Linked DNA regions of Homo sapiens. The protein of the gene in region 2 purifies or fractionates together with the protein of the main gene of each other region. This does not show direct contact. Each region holds a gene or a part of one and is shown on either strand. Other genes may lie near its edges.

Region 1 (3,007 bases), on a different chromosome or scaffold from region 2:
TGAGATTACAGGTGTGAGCCACCATGCCCAGCCAAAATGTGCTTTTTAAACGTTGCTGCTAAGATATTACATTTGATAGCTTGGTTTTTCTCAGTGGCCTGAAAATAGTTGATGTAATTAAAGTAACGAGAGTTCAATTGGAACCTCAGTCTCTCTTTTTATTTAAAGAAACAAGATTTGAGATTCTGGCAGCTGCATTGCCTCTTCATGGAAGAGAACTTTTTATTTCAAGGTGGCTGTTGAGCCAGGCCTAATGTAGACTATGCCCCTGGAGTTCGCTGGGTTTTGGAAATGTTTTGCTTATTCATAATGTAGTATTTTCTAAATCATTTAATCCCCCTAATTCTCAAATATGAATGTTGAATAATAGACTGATTTCTGAACTGCCAAAGGAAAATAACCATGATTTGCTGCTCAGAGTTTTAAAAACTGCTTTTCTTTTTCTTAGGTCCAGATAACTCTCACCTCACATGACTGTGGTGAACTGACCAAAAAAGATGTGAAGCTGGCCAAGTTTATTGAAAAAGCAGCTGCTTCTGTGTGATTTCTTCCAAAATACATGTAAAATCTTGTACACATCTTAGCTGCAATGTATGTTGAAGGAAATTTATGTGAACAAATAGAGTTGTTCTTTTTCTCTTTTTTTTAAGACAGAGTGTTGCTCTGTCGCCCAGGCCAGAGTGCAGTGGTATGATCTCGGCTCACTGTAACCTCCGCCTCCCAGGTTCAGGTGATTCTCCTGCCTCAGCCTCCTGAGTAGCTGGGATTACAAGCACGTGTCACCACGCCTGGCTAATTTTTGTATTTTTAGTATAGACAGGGTTTTACCACGTTGGTCAGGCTGGTCTCGAACTCCTGACCTCGTGATCCGCCTGCCTCAGCCTCCCAAAGTGCTGGGATTACAGGCATGAGCCACCATGCCTGGCTGTTGAATTGTTCTTAAGGCATCATATCTAGAAGCAAAGAAAAAAGAAAAATAACAATTTAAGTTGTGTAAATTGTTTGCCTTTATATATTACATTTGGTAAAATCAGTGCTTAAATACGCAATGATTTAAACTGGAACCTGAGGTATTTTTCATGCTATCTAATCATATACCTAAGATAAACCAACCCAGTTACTTATATTAATAATATTCAGAAAGAGAAGTGGCTTTTTTTTTTTTTTGAGACGGAGTCTTGCTCTGTCACCAGGCTGGAGTGCAGTGGCGGGATCTCGGCTCACTGCAACCTCTGCCTCCCAGGTTCAAATGATTCTCCTGCCACAGCCTCCCGAGTAGCTGGGACTATAGGCACGTGCCACTGCGCCTAGCTAATTTTTGTATTTTTAGTAGAGATGGGGTTTCATTATGTTGGCCAGGATGGTCTCGATCTACTGACCTCGTGATCCACCTGCCTCCACCTCCGAAAGTGTTGGGATCACAGGCATGAGCCACCGCGCTTGGCCAGAAGTGGCATTCTTAAATTCAAGAAATTGGGATGGGGAGTATTCACACATTTTATAACCCAGAAATTCAAGCAATTCTGGTGACTACAAATGCATTGTTTTGGAGAATAGTTGTAAGGTGGAAAAAGAATTAGGAACTCGACAGATAGTGAGTTTTAACTTTAAATAACAATTCTTCTTTTGTTTTGTTTTGTTTGAGACGGGGTCTCGCTCTGCTGCCCAGGCTGGAGTGCAGTGGCAGGATCACGGTTTATTGCAGCCTTAACCTCCTGGGCTCAAGCAGTTCTCCCTCCTCAGCCTCCAGAGTAGCTGGGACTATAGGCAAGTGCCACCACGCCTGACTAATTTTTAAATTTTTTGTAGAGATGGGGTCTCCCATCTTGCCCAGGCTGGCCTTGAACTCTTGGGCTCAAGCAAGCCTCCCACCTCTGCCTCCCAAAGTCCAAGGATTACAGGTGTGAGCCATTGCCCCCAGCCAGTATAACAGTTTGTGTGTGTGTGTGTGTGTGTGTGTGTGTGTGTGTTTGACACGGGGTCTCATTCTGTTGCCCAGGCAGTAGTGTAGTGGTGCGACCATGGCTCACTGTAGTCTTGACTTCTCAGGCTCAAGTGATCCTCTCACCTCAGCCTCCTGAGTAGCAGCGGTTACAGGCATGCATCACCACACCTGGCTTATTTTTAAAACTTTTTTGTGGAGACAGGGTCTTACTATGTTGCCATGGCTGGTCTAGAACTTCTGGGCTCGAGTAATCCTCCTGCCTTGGCCTCTCAAAATGTTGGGATTACAGGTGTGAGCCACTGTGTCATAACAATTATTTTAAAATTTTTATTTATTTATTTTTAATAATTATACAAGATGGAGTCTCACTATGTTGCCCAGGCTGGTCTTGAATGCCTGGGCTCAAATGATCTTCCTGCCTTGACCCCCCAAAGTGCTGGGATTACAGGCGTGAGCCACTGCGCCTGGCCTATAACAATTCTTATGAAGCTAAAGTTGATTTGGATTTTAGCTGCCGTTACTACTTATATAATTAATTAGATTAAACAAGTCACAAAAATTGGATGAGCTATCTTGGTGTGTTTTCTTTACTTTTCTCTTTCAACAGAGAGTTGAAGGAGAGGACAAGTGTCTTGTCTGTGGCTTCCAGGAATGTGTGGCAATATAAGATTTACTGTTACAGCAGCCAACTCACCAAGTCATTATTTGACTTACTGAGTTAAGGAGGAACTAAGGGTCATTTTCCCCCCATCATTTGCATGTTTTGACTCCTGAACTGAGGGTCTACGGCCACTGAAGCTAGAAGCTAGAAGGGTGTTAATCAGTAGTGAGCTCTACTTACTCCATGTGTCACTGACAGATGTAAAAAGGAATATCAAGTAATCTATTATTTAAAAATTGTAATAAGAGTGTTTTTTGAAGGAATTCAGGAATGTACTACTAACGAGATTATGATGCAGGTATATCCATCCATGAAGCATTTGTTAGTCCCTTGAAGCATCATGGTAGTGGAATTTAACATGGATCATCTTTGTAAACCCACCTCTCTTTAGGGGCCAGAGA
Region 2 (3,684 bases):
AACCAAGGCGCCCGAGGTGAGGAGGATTTCAATGAGAGAAACTCATCACCGGCATCAGCTGAGCCGGCTTCTCCCGGTGCCCTGATTGTTCCAGGTGCCTGCGCATCCCCCCCACCCCCGCTCCCTCACCGGGAAGCCGAGGCCAGGCCGGGTGCCTCTGGCTAAGTGAGCGAAAGTGCCAAGGTTTGGGAACTGTTCTGGGTCTATTACCCGTTAACTCAGATGATAAGTTTATTCTCAGAGCTGCTCTAAGAGGCTACCCACTGAGCCCCCTCGGCGAGTGCATGGAGAACCACCCAGGGATCTTCATCTAGGCGAATTGTTTTCTCCCCTGGAGCGTGTCCCTTCCCCCAGTCCCAGTGGTGACCGGGAGGTACCGTTTTGTTCTGCTCCAGAGCGGTTCTGAAAAATTTCCCAACCAAATCATTCCTACAAAAGATAAATTGATTTGGGGTGTGTTTACATAAATGCAGAAGACCAGTCGAAAAGAACATGGCTTGTCCACTAGAAAAATGTTGATTATTCATTAATAAGTAGATACCAGATCAAGTAATCAAATACATTAATGTAACTTTTCTCTGATACTGGTTTGACAAATACTATATTTCCTTATTTAACTGACCTGTTTTGGAATTCTTCTGAATACAGGTCAAAATTCAACATTGTGAGGAATTTTAAGTAGAGCAAGCACACTTTTTTTTTTACAACAATTACATTAAACTCAATTATGCTTTACAAAGATAGCTTGTTTTTCCTCATAGTGCGCCAAAATTCTACATTTCCAAGACCCTGTTTTCTAATAGATTCTGTATTTGCAACAGTCATAGAAATTGGTGATGGTAAAAACTAAAAACCACATTTAATTCAGGCTTCACGTTAGCCATTCCAGGTGCAAATTATATTACAGCATTGATTTGTAATTTGTGACAACGTTTGGTTAATACACCAGTGAACCTTAAAAAGATCAGAATTGTTACATGTATGATGTGAACCAGTGTTATCTTTTATGTTAACCATGTGCACTACCACAGGCTATAAATATGAAGCAATATTTCAGCAAGATAGAAGCTCCTGTGTATCTCCACATTTAGAGAGAAGTCTGAGCGGTTTCCATCATTATTATATTTTCTGCTTTCACTGTGCCATAGGAAGTGTCTGCCATTTCCTCTTCTTTTAGTTTTTTATAAGAAATATCTGTATCTTCATCTTCATCTAGAGGATCTCGCTTGTGCAACATTTCACTTCCATACATTTTATAGATTAAAACAAAAATCCCCGCTTCTGCAGACTGGAAAAGTGCATACAGCAAAGGAAACATGTACATGCTTCCTATGAATTGCGGTGGAAAGGCCAGTTTTAGAATGGCTGTACAGAGCTGCACATTCTGACTACCTGTTTCCAGACATACAGTCCTCTTGCAGTTGGGTGGAAGATGGAAGAGAGTAGCTAAACCATAACCTGAAGCGTAGCCTGCCAAAGGCATAAAAATTGCTATCACATAAACAGCTGCAGGGATACTTGCCAGCAGTTCAGGTCCTAACATAGTGCCGGTCATTATGAAAAGGACCACCAGAGTCACTAGCAGAGACCACAGGGAAACCTAGTAATAGAAAATTACAATGAGATGGTTGAAGATGAACTCAGGCGAGAGAATCCTAAGCTCACGGAAGAAAACACCCATCTAGTATGCTCTCCAACACAAAATGGAGACCTTTGACAGAATATTTCTGAAGATGGGCAGGCCACCTCTTCAGGAAGCATCCAGAGCCACATTGGGCAGCTCTGATTGTTTGGAGGCCTGTCCTTATGTCCAGGGACAATTTGCCTTCTATAACCTCTAGCCATTGAGTTGGATATAGGCTCTCAGGAGCGACAGAGACCAGCTCTTCAAAAACAAAAAACAAACAAAAAAACCCAGCTTTTCTGGCCAGGCGCGGTGGCTCACACCTGTAATCCCAGCACTTTGGGAGGCTAAGGTGGGTGGATCATGAGGTCAGGAGTTGAAGACCAGGCTGGCCAAGATGGTGAAACACTGTCTCTACTAAAAATACAAAAATTAGCCAGGTGTGATGGTGAATGCCTGTAATCCCAGCTACTCGGGATGCTGAGGCAGAGAATTGCTTGAACCTGGGAGGTGGAGGTTGCAGTGAGCAGAGATCGCGCCACTGCACTCCAGCCTGGGTGACAGAGCAACACTCCATTTCACCAAAAAAAAAAAAAAAAAAAAAAAAAAAAAAAGCTCTTCAAAAAAAAATAGCCTTCAAAAGCTTTTTTCCTGAAAAACAGCTCTTCAAAAGCTTAAAAACTGGTTATCAGGGGAAGGCTACTCTTCTTCAGGCAGATCATCCCCAAACTTAAACCTCCATCACATAACTTTGTTTTGGTATCCTGACTGTTCTGAGAATGTGTTTCATATGTGAATGTGCCTCTTAAAAACAGGGCATTTAGAACTGAACCTAATACCCCAGGTATGGTCTGATCATCAGAGCAGACAAGTGGATGTTTACTTTCCCTGAACTGAACCCCGTGTTTTCCATAAGAAATTAGTTCTCATTTTACATGAGTTAAAACTTGTGAAACTTGATTAAAATGTCTGAAGCTCAGTGTGTGATCTTTTTAACCCTCAAAATATACTGCAGAGGATTGCTTGCAATATTGAAACAATTACCTACTCTTAGATTATGTAAGAGAGAAAAATGTAAATAAATATGTGAAGAATTCTTTGCAATTTGGCAACTTTCCCCTTTTTTATTTGTTCATGAGAAACCTCCCATCTATAAGTCTGTAATGATGCTTACGTATTATTACAATAGATGGATTTCGGATACAGTACAACTGACTTCTGTATAAAACGTGTCATCTTGATGTTCTGACTGGTACATTTCACTCATTCAAATAAAACAGTCTGTATGAATTGTAAGGCGGAAATCTAAAAATTCCTCTCCTCGTTCTCCTTCATATTGGTAGTTAACTTATTTTTTTTTAATGAGGAGTGGGCAGGGAAAGGAAACTAGAGCCAGAGAGAACAGCTTAAATGTTGCTTCTGGTTCCCTGGATAGCTGGGATATCCCTTTTGCAGTCTTCGGGAATGGCGTAACTCTACACTCTTAAAAAATTATTTAAAATTTATCTGAGCTGGTCACAAATTCTACCCTAGAGGATGCTGCAATAATTATTATATAAGGTACAGATACTACAGATGCATAATTGGCAGAAACCAGGCTATTACATGTAAAAGCATACCATTTCAAAGTATGTCACATTGAAAGCGCTGACAAACAGTCTGATTTCTTCATTTTGAAATATTGGCTCCAAAGTCCCTTAGAACTATTTTAAATCATTTGGGCAAGCATTGACATTGAATGCTCATTTTGAAGTGTTTGCAAAGGTGTAACAATTATATAAACCGTTTCTTAATAGTGTGTTAATTAAAGAATAGGGCTAGGTTAACCTTAAATTCAAAGGTAGCTAATCTTATGTCTATTATATTTAAATATTAAATATATTAATTTATTAATATATTTATTTTAAATATATTTCTTGTTTTGGGTGTGTAAATAGGTCATTTGATTGACTTTCTCTTAGACTTCCTAAGGTTTTATAGTAAATGCCATCACATTAATAGCATTAGCTTAATGATTAAGATTAACAAGTTCTTAATGCATCTCAAGAGTATCTATGAGT
Region 3 (3,500 bases), on a different chromosome or scaffold from region 2:
TGGCCCACAGACCCTGAGGTGTTTCCTTGGTGGCTCTTCACAGAATGTTTGCTGCCCCTAGTATAGAGGGTAGAGCCTCCTGGGTAGGGCTGTCCTGTGGCTCACTGTTTTTTGTAGGCCAGGTACCCCCTTGACACCTGACATCTGCCTCAGTCCCCTCACAGTTCAGCCTTCAAACTTGAGTCCTCTGTGTCATATGCCTAGACCCCCCACTTCTGAGGAGAAAGCCTCAGCTTTCTCCTTTCACGATCCCTTCTCTCTCGGTGAATGGCCAGTGGGTTGGGCTCTCTTGCCCCCACCCATGTTGGCATTGCTTGCCTTTTAGGTACCCATGGGACGGCTCCTGTTTCTCCCATTCTGAGAGCATCTGCTTATAATTCTAGGGCCTGTGTTTGGAAGCAAAGATAACTTCCACGGCTTAGCCATCTTCCTGGACACCTACCCCAATGATGAGACCACTGAGGTAGGCCCCTGCTCTATCCTGCTGAGCAGGAAAGGAAGGACTGGGCAGTCGGCTAGAGGAGGGGGCCCTGGGACTTCCATGGTCCCAGCACAAGAGGAGCCTCCAGGGATTGGGGTGGTGGGTGCCCCTGCTCGCCCCACAGGCTGGGCTGCTTGTGGAGTAACCGATGTCTTGGTCCCAGCGCGTGTTCCCGTACATCTCGGTGATGGTGAACAATGGCTCCCTGTCCTACGACCACAGCAAGGATGGGCGCTGGACCGAGCTGGCGGGCTGCACGGCTGACTTCCGCAACCGCGATCACGACACCTTCCTGGCTGTGCGCTACTCCCGGGGCCGTCTGACGGTGAGCAGGCTAGGCGGTGGGGGTGGCAGCTGGTGGCCCTGTGCTGGTCCCACAGAGGCTCAGGAGGGCAGGCTGCTGTCCTGCGAGGTGCTTAGCGTGCTGGGCCCTGCAGGTGATGACCGACCTGGAGGACAAGAACGAGTGGAAGAACTGCATTGACATCACGGGAGTGCGCCTGCCCACCGGCTACTACTTCGGGGCCTCCGCCGGCACCGGCGACCTGTCTGGTGAGTGGGCCGGGCCAGGCGTTGGTTCCCAGCCCAGCTCACCCTGAGGGACTGGGAGCTTTCCATGCAGTTGATTGCCTGCCTTCATGTGGTTTCTGAGCTCACCTGGCTGTGTTCCTCCTCCTCCTTTCTTCTGTAAATGGCCTGTCCGGGCCTCAGTTCCTGTGGTTTCTGGGCTCACCTGGCTGTGTTCCTCCTCCTCCTTTCTTCTGTAAATGGCCTGTCCGGGCCTCAGTTCCTGTGGTTTCTGAGCTCACCTGGCTGTGTTCCTCCTCCTCCTTTCTTCTGTAAATGGCCTGTCCGGGCCTCAGGCCTTGAACGGTCCCTTGGCAACCTTCCCCATCAACAGGAGGCAGCGGGTCAGTTAGATTTGGGCAATGTAGATTCCCAGATTTATCTCCAGCCCAGACCGCTCTGGACCTGCTCAGCCCTTGTGCCCACAGCTGAGGCCACATCTTGCCCATCGGGATGTCAGTGGCACCTGTGCCCCTCTATTTGCTTGCTGTCTTTCCGGACCCTTCTTTCTCTCACATGGCACCTCTGGTCCATCAACAGTCCCTGTGGCTTTATTTTCACAGCACGTCTCACCACTTCCCTCCCCTCCCTGACTACCTGGCGGCTTCAGGCCACCAGTGTCTCTCACAGGAGTCTCCCAAGTGGTCCCCTCCTTCACCAGCCCCCAACAGTCTCTCGTGAGCACAGCAGCCGTGTAATCGCCTTCAGTAATCGCCTTCAGCCCGTGTGAGGCCTCCTGCTGCTCTGCGCAGAGCTCTGCAGGGGGCGCCAGGGCCTCTGTGCCAGCCCTGCCACCTCTGGCTCCCTGCTCACTGCTCCCCCTGCCTACTGTGGCTTCCAGCTGCTGCCTGGATGCGCCTGTGCCCTCCTGCCCCGGCTGTTTCACCCTTGTCTCCTAGGGCCTTGCTCAGATGTTACCTCCTCAGTGCGGCCTTCCCTGATGCCCTCGTGGAATGTCGTGCCCCCTCCTGTGTCCCCAGCCCACTCCCCAGCATCTTTGCTGGCTTTATTTTTCTTCATAATATTTACCATCTTTGAGTCTACCGAGTAATTAATTTTATTGTCTCTGGCCCTCCTGCTCAATTGTAAGCTCTATAAATGGCTGTTTGGCCCAGGGCAGGTGCTCAGCGAGCACTGGGGTGCCTCTAACCTGCTCAGGCCTCACTGGTCACCAGGCCGTGGTGGCCCTTGGCTGTGGTTCTCGGTTTCTCTTTGGGGCCCTGAGCAGGTGCCAGGCCCAGGGCCAGCTCCTGACCAGAACTGGCACGTGACACGGGGGACCTGACATGGGCGGTTTATCCTCAGGATGACCCATTCCAGGGCCTGTAGTCTGCCCACTGCCCAGGAGCCTCCTCTCTCAGCATGGAAGTGCTTGGGTCCGCTCAGACCCCAGAACATCCATTGTTTGGGGGTTTTTCAGTCACATACCCAGCAGAGGAGAGAGGTCTGGTAAGCACCCTTCCTGCCAACCAGCTTTCATCATTTCCAGCTCGCGCCTGGCTGGTTTCCCTCCTGCCCCGGGTTGCCTGGAACTTCATCACACTGTTTCAGCCCTTGTCTTTGGAGGGTTCTTGATAGGAGCAGAGCAGCACCAGTGCTGTGGCCGGTGGCAGCTCTCACAGCTGTTGGGAGAGCCCAGCACAGAGTGGAGGAGGCACCATGAGGGGAGCCGTGTCTGACCACTGGTCAGGGGTCATCAGTGCCAGGCACCTTACGGGTGATGTCACCTGATGTATTTTTAGGCAGATGGCCATCTCGTTCCCTTTTTACTCAACCATTGGGAGTTTGAAAACTGAAAGGATTTTTCCTAAGATACGAGCAGGAAGCAGCAGAGCCCAGATGGGAACTGGGGCCTGACTCCAGGGCCGGTCCTTGTCCTGCAGGGCCGCTCGCCGTCTCCAAGGGCTGTGCATGCTCGGCTCTCACACTGTGTGCCTGGCCGAGCTCTTGCTCATTAGGTCCCCCCTTGGCTCCAGAGATTCCTGCTCCCTTCAACAAGGCCTTTCCTCAGATTCCAGTCCCAGGCTGACCAGGACCCACGTGTCGGCTTTGAGCCTCAGCCTCCTCATCTCTACAATTGGGTGATCCATCAGCGTCAAGCCAGGGCTCTTCCCTGTGCATGCCATTGGACAGAGCCTTTCCCCAGTCTCCTCAGGCACAGCTGCTGACCTGCGTTAGGCTCAGGCCCTTAGCTGGTTGCCGAGTTGTTCCCCTGCAGCCTGTATGTGGGTCTCTGTGGCAAGAATGTCTGGTGGCTCCTGCCCTTGGGACCTCAGCCTTCTCAGCCAGTCACACAGCGACTGTTGGTCTTTCCCGGGTCTGTTTTTGAGCACTTATTCTGCAGGCAGGCCATCTTCTGTGTGGTGTAGACCCTTCTCATGTACTTGCCATGGCAACCACACAGATGGAGATCATCACTCCTCTACATGTGCGGAACATGAGCCTCAAAGAG
Region 4 (2,753 bases), on a different chromosome or scaffold from region 2:
TGGCTGGAGAGGGGGGTCTCCAGCAGCTCAGCGGAGACAGACACAGCCGCCTCCAGTCACCCCACAGGGCCTGAACCTGCCTCCTCCTCCGAGCAGGCTACGCCGTGGGCTGGGGTCCCATCACCTGGCTGCTCATGTCTGAGGTCCTGCCCCTGCGTGCCCGTGGCGTGGCCTCAGGGCTCTGCGTGCTGGCCAGCTGGCTCACCGCCTTCGTCCTCACCAAGTCCTTCCTGCCAGTGGTGGTGAGTGTTCAGCCCCAGGCCCCAGGCCCCTAGGCCCTCTCTGACTGGCCAGGACCCTTCTCAGTGCCAGGGGCTGTGCCAAGGCCTGCTGTCAGGACCCTAACTCTCAGTGACCCTAGGAGATGAGCACACACCCCCTGAACTCAGAGACCCCAGAGTGGTCACGTGATAGCCTAGCAAACGCTCTTCATTATAAGAAACAGGAACGGGCGTAGGCAACTGTTCTGGGAAGTCAGGTTACCTCCTGGGCCAGGGCAGGACATGGCCCAGGACCCTGCCAGGGGCCCCGGAAGCCACCTCCCCACCGTGCCTCATCTCCCGCCCTCCTGGGCGCTGGGTCTCAGCAGCAGCCACACTCCCCCCTCAACCCCACCCACTCCCCCTGCCTCCTGGTTCAAAACTACGGGCCCTGTGACCAGCCAGAATCTGTGAGGCCCAGAGTAAGTTCCCATGAGGGAGAAGCTGGCTAGGGCAGCCTAGGCCAGCGCCTAAGCTGTCCCTGCAGTGGTCAGGGCAGGGGGGTTGGGGGAGGGCAGGCAACCCAGAGTGAGTCCATCAGCCTAGAGGGTCCAAGAAGAACCTGCGTGCCCACCAGGCTGCAGGGCGGGCCTCCTGCAGGCCGCGGCATGGAACAGCTGGGATGCCAGCGCTGGGTAGGGGGTGTGGAGGGGGTACCTGAGCTGACGCCAGAGGGCCCAGCCCCTGAGGAAGGCCGAGGGGCAGACGGGATGCAGACTTCAAGGGCTACTTCGGATTTGTCCTGGGGACAGTGGGGGAGCCCTGGTGTGGGGGGGCGGTCTCTGAACACAGGAAGGACCAGATGAAGGCCCCACAGGGCTGGTCACTACCAGCAGCGCCCACGAGCTCCTCTGGGGCAGGAGGACCCTGGAGCTTCTCCCTGTGACCCGGCCCCGCTCTTCACCCGCAGAGCACCTTCGGCCTCCAGGTGCCTTTCTTCTTCTTCGCGGCCATCTGCTTGGTGAGCCTGGTGTTCACAGGCTGCTGTGTGCCCGAGACCAAGGGACGGTCCCTGGAGCAGATCGAGTCCTTCTTCCGCACGGGGAGAAGGTCCTTCTTGCGCTAGGTCAAGGTCCCCGCCTGGAGGGGGCCAAACCCCCAGTGGCTGGGCCTCTGTGTTGGCTACAAACCTGCACCCTGGGACCAAGAGGCAGCAGTCATCCCTGCCACCAGCCAGAGCACAGGAAGAGCAGTGTGATGGGGCCTCAGCAGCGGGTGCCCCTGGCTCGGGACAGGTAGCACTGCTGTCCAGCCACAGCCCCAGCCCAGGCAGCCCACAGTGCTGCACGTAGCCATGGGCCGCAGGAGTGCATACAACCCTGCATCCAGGGACACGGCCCTGCTGGGTGACCTCAGGCCTAGTCCCTTTCCCTTGCGTGAAGGACACGCCCCACAGAAGGCTACGGGGAGGACTGAGAGGACAGGGCTGGAGGCAGCCAAGTAACGTAGTCATATCATCGCGCTCTGATCTGGTGGCATCTGGCTGTGCAAGGAAGACCCGGCTTTGCCCTCACAAGTCTTATGGGCACCACAGGGAACATCCTGGACTTAAAAAGCCAGGGCAGGCCGGGCACAGTGGCTCACGCCTGTAATCCCAGCACTTTGGGAGGCCAAAGCAGGTGGATTACCCAAGGCCAGGAGTTCAAGACCAGCCTGGCCAACATGGTGAAACCCCGTCTCTACTAAAAAATACAAAAAAGCTGGGTGTGGTGGCACACACCCGTAGTTCCAGCTACTTGGGAGGCTGAGGCAGCATTGCTTGAACCCGGGAGGTGGAGGCTGCAATGAGCTGAGATCATGCCATTGCACTCCAGCCTGGGCAACGAGAGTGAAACTCCGTCCCCACCCCCTGCCAAAAAAAAAAAAAAAAAAGCCAGGGCAAAGGACCTGGCGTGGCCACTTCCTCCTGCCCCAGCCCAACCTCTGGGAACAGGCAGCTCCTATCTGCAAACTGTGTTCACCCTTTTGTAAAAATAAAGGAACTGGACCTGTAGTCCTAGCGAGGAAAGAGTGGGGTCTACTCCAGGAGCCCCCACAGCAGCCAGGCTAGACCCGAACCAGCCAAGGTTGCCAGGGCCACTGACTGCTGATCCATAGCAAAAGCAGGGCAGGGAAAAGGCTGCAGTGAGGGGAAGCCCACTGCGAGGCCCACCCTTAACAGGCTCTTTCTAGCTGTGTGACCTTGGGCAGGTCACTTTCCTTGTCTGGGATGCTGGGGGCAGCCTCGGGACAGGACCTGTAGTTATTTCCTGGGCCAGCGGCTCCTGCCTGGCTTCCACACTCACACACAGGCACCAAGGCAGAAGGGAGCAGAGGGCAGGCACGCGAGCCACGGCCACGCTTTATTGCTTAAGACGCACACAGAACACAGAGGAACAAACAAGGAGGAAAGGGCGCCACACACAGCCCAGACCAGGCAGGAGCGGCCCAGCCGCCGGAAGAGACGTTCCTTGCAAGGCAGGGCCCCTGCTGGACAGCACGCCCCCTGGGCGA

The links. The genes of interacting proteins can lie anywhere in the genome.
Region 1: the proteins of SLC10A4 (region 2) and PCBD2 purify together in Homo sapiens (affinity purification with mass spectrometry; one large-scale study listed by BioGRID and IntAct). This does not show direct contact.
Region 3: the proteins of SLC10A4 (region 2) and LMAN2 purify together in Homo sapiens (affinity purification with mass spectrometry; one large-scale study listed by BioGRID and IntAct). This does not show direct contact.
Region 4: the proteins of SLC10A4 (region 2) and SLC2A6 purify together in Homo sapiens (affinity purification with mass spectrometry; one large-scale study listed by BioGRID and IntAct). This does not show direct contact.

Annotation. Positions count from the first base shown.
Region 1 is NC_000005.10:134,960,138-134,963,144, forward strand, and holds the end of PCBD2 (pterin-4-alpha-carbinolamine dehydratase 2), read left to right. Parts: intron 1-448; coding exon 449-544; 3' UTR 545-2,507; downstream 2,508-3,007.
Region 2 is NC_000004.12:48,486,343-48,490,026, reverse strand, and holds the end of SLC10A4 (sodium/bile acid cotransporter 4), read right to left. Parts: intron 1,601-3,684; coding exon 1,088-1,600; 3' UTR 501-1,087; downstream 1-500. UniProt on the Homo sapiens protein: Transporter for bile acids.
Region 3 is NC_000005.10:177,334,669-177,338,168, reverse strand, and holds part of LMAN2 (vesicular integral-membrane protein VIP36 precursor), read left to right. Parts: intron 1-383; coding exon 384-463; intron 464-644; coding exon 645-806; intron 807-918; coding exon 919-1,033; intron 1,034-3,500. UniProt on the Homo sapiens protein: Plays a role as an intracellular lectin in the early secretory pathway. Interacts with N-acetyl-D-galactosamine and high-mannose type glycans and may also bind to O-linked glycans.
Region 4 is NC_000009.12:133,470,594-133,473,346, reverse strand, and holds the end of SLC2A6 (solute carrier family 2, facilitated glucose transporter member 6), read left to right. Parts: intron 1-96; coding exon 97-242; intron 243-1,170; coding exon 1,171-1,326; 3' UTR 1,327-2,253; downstream 2,254-2,753. UniProt on the Homo sapiens protein: Probable sugar transporter that acts as a regulator of glycolysis in macrophages. Does not transport glucose.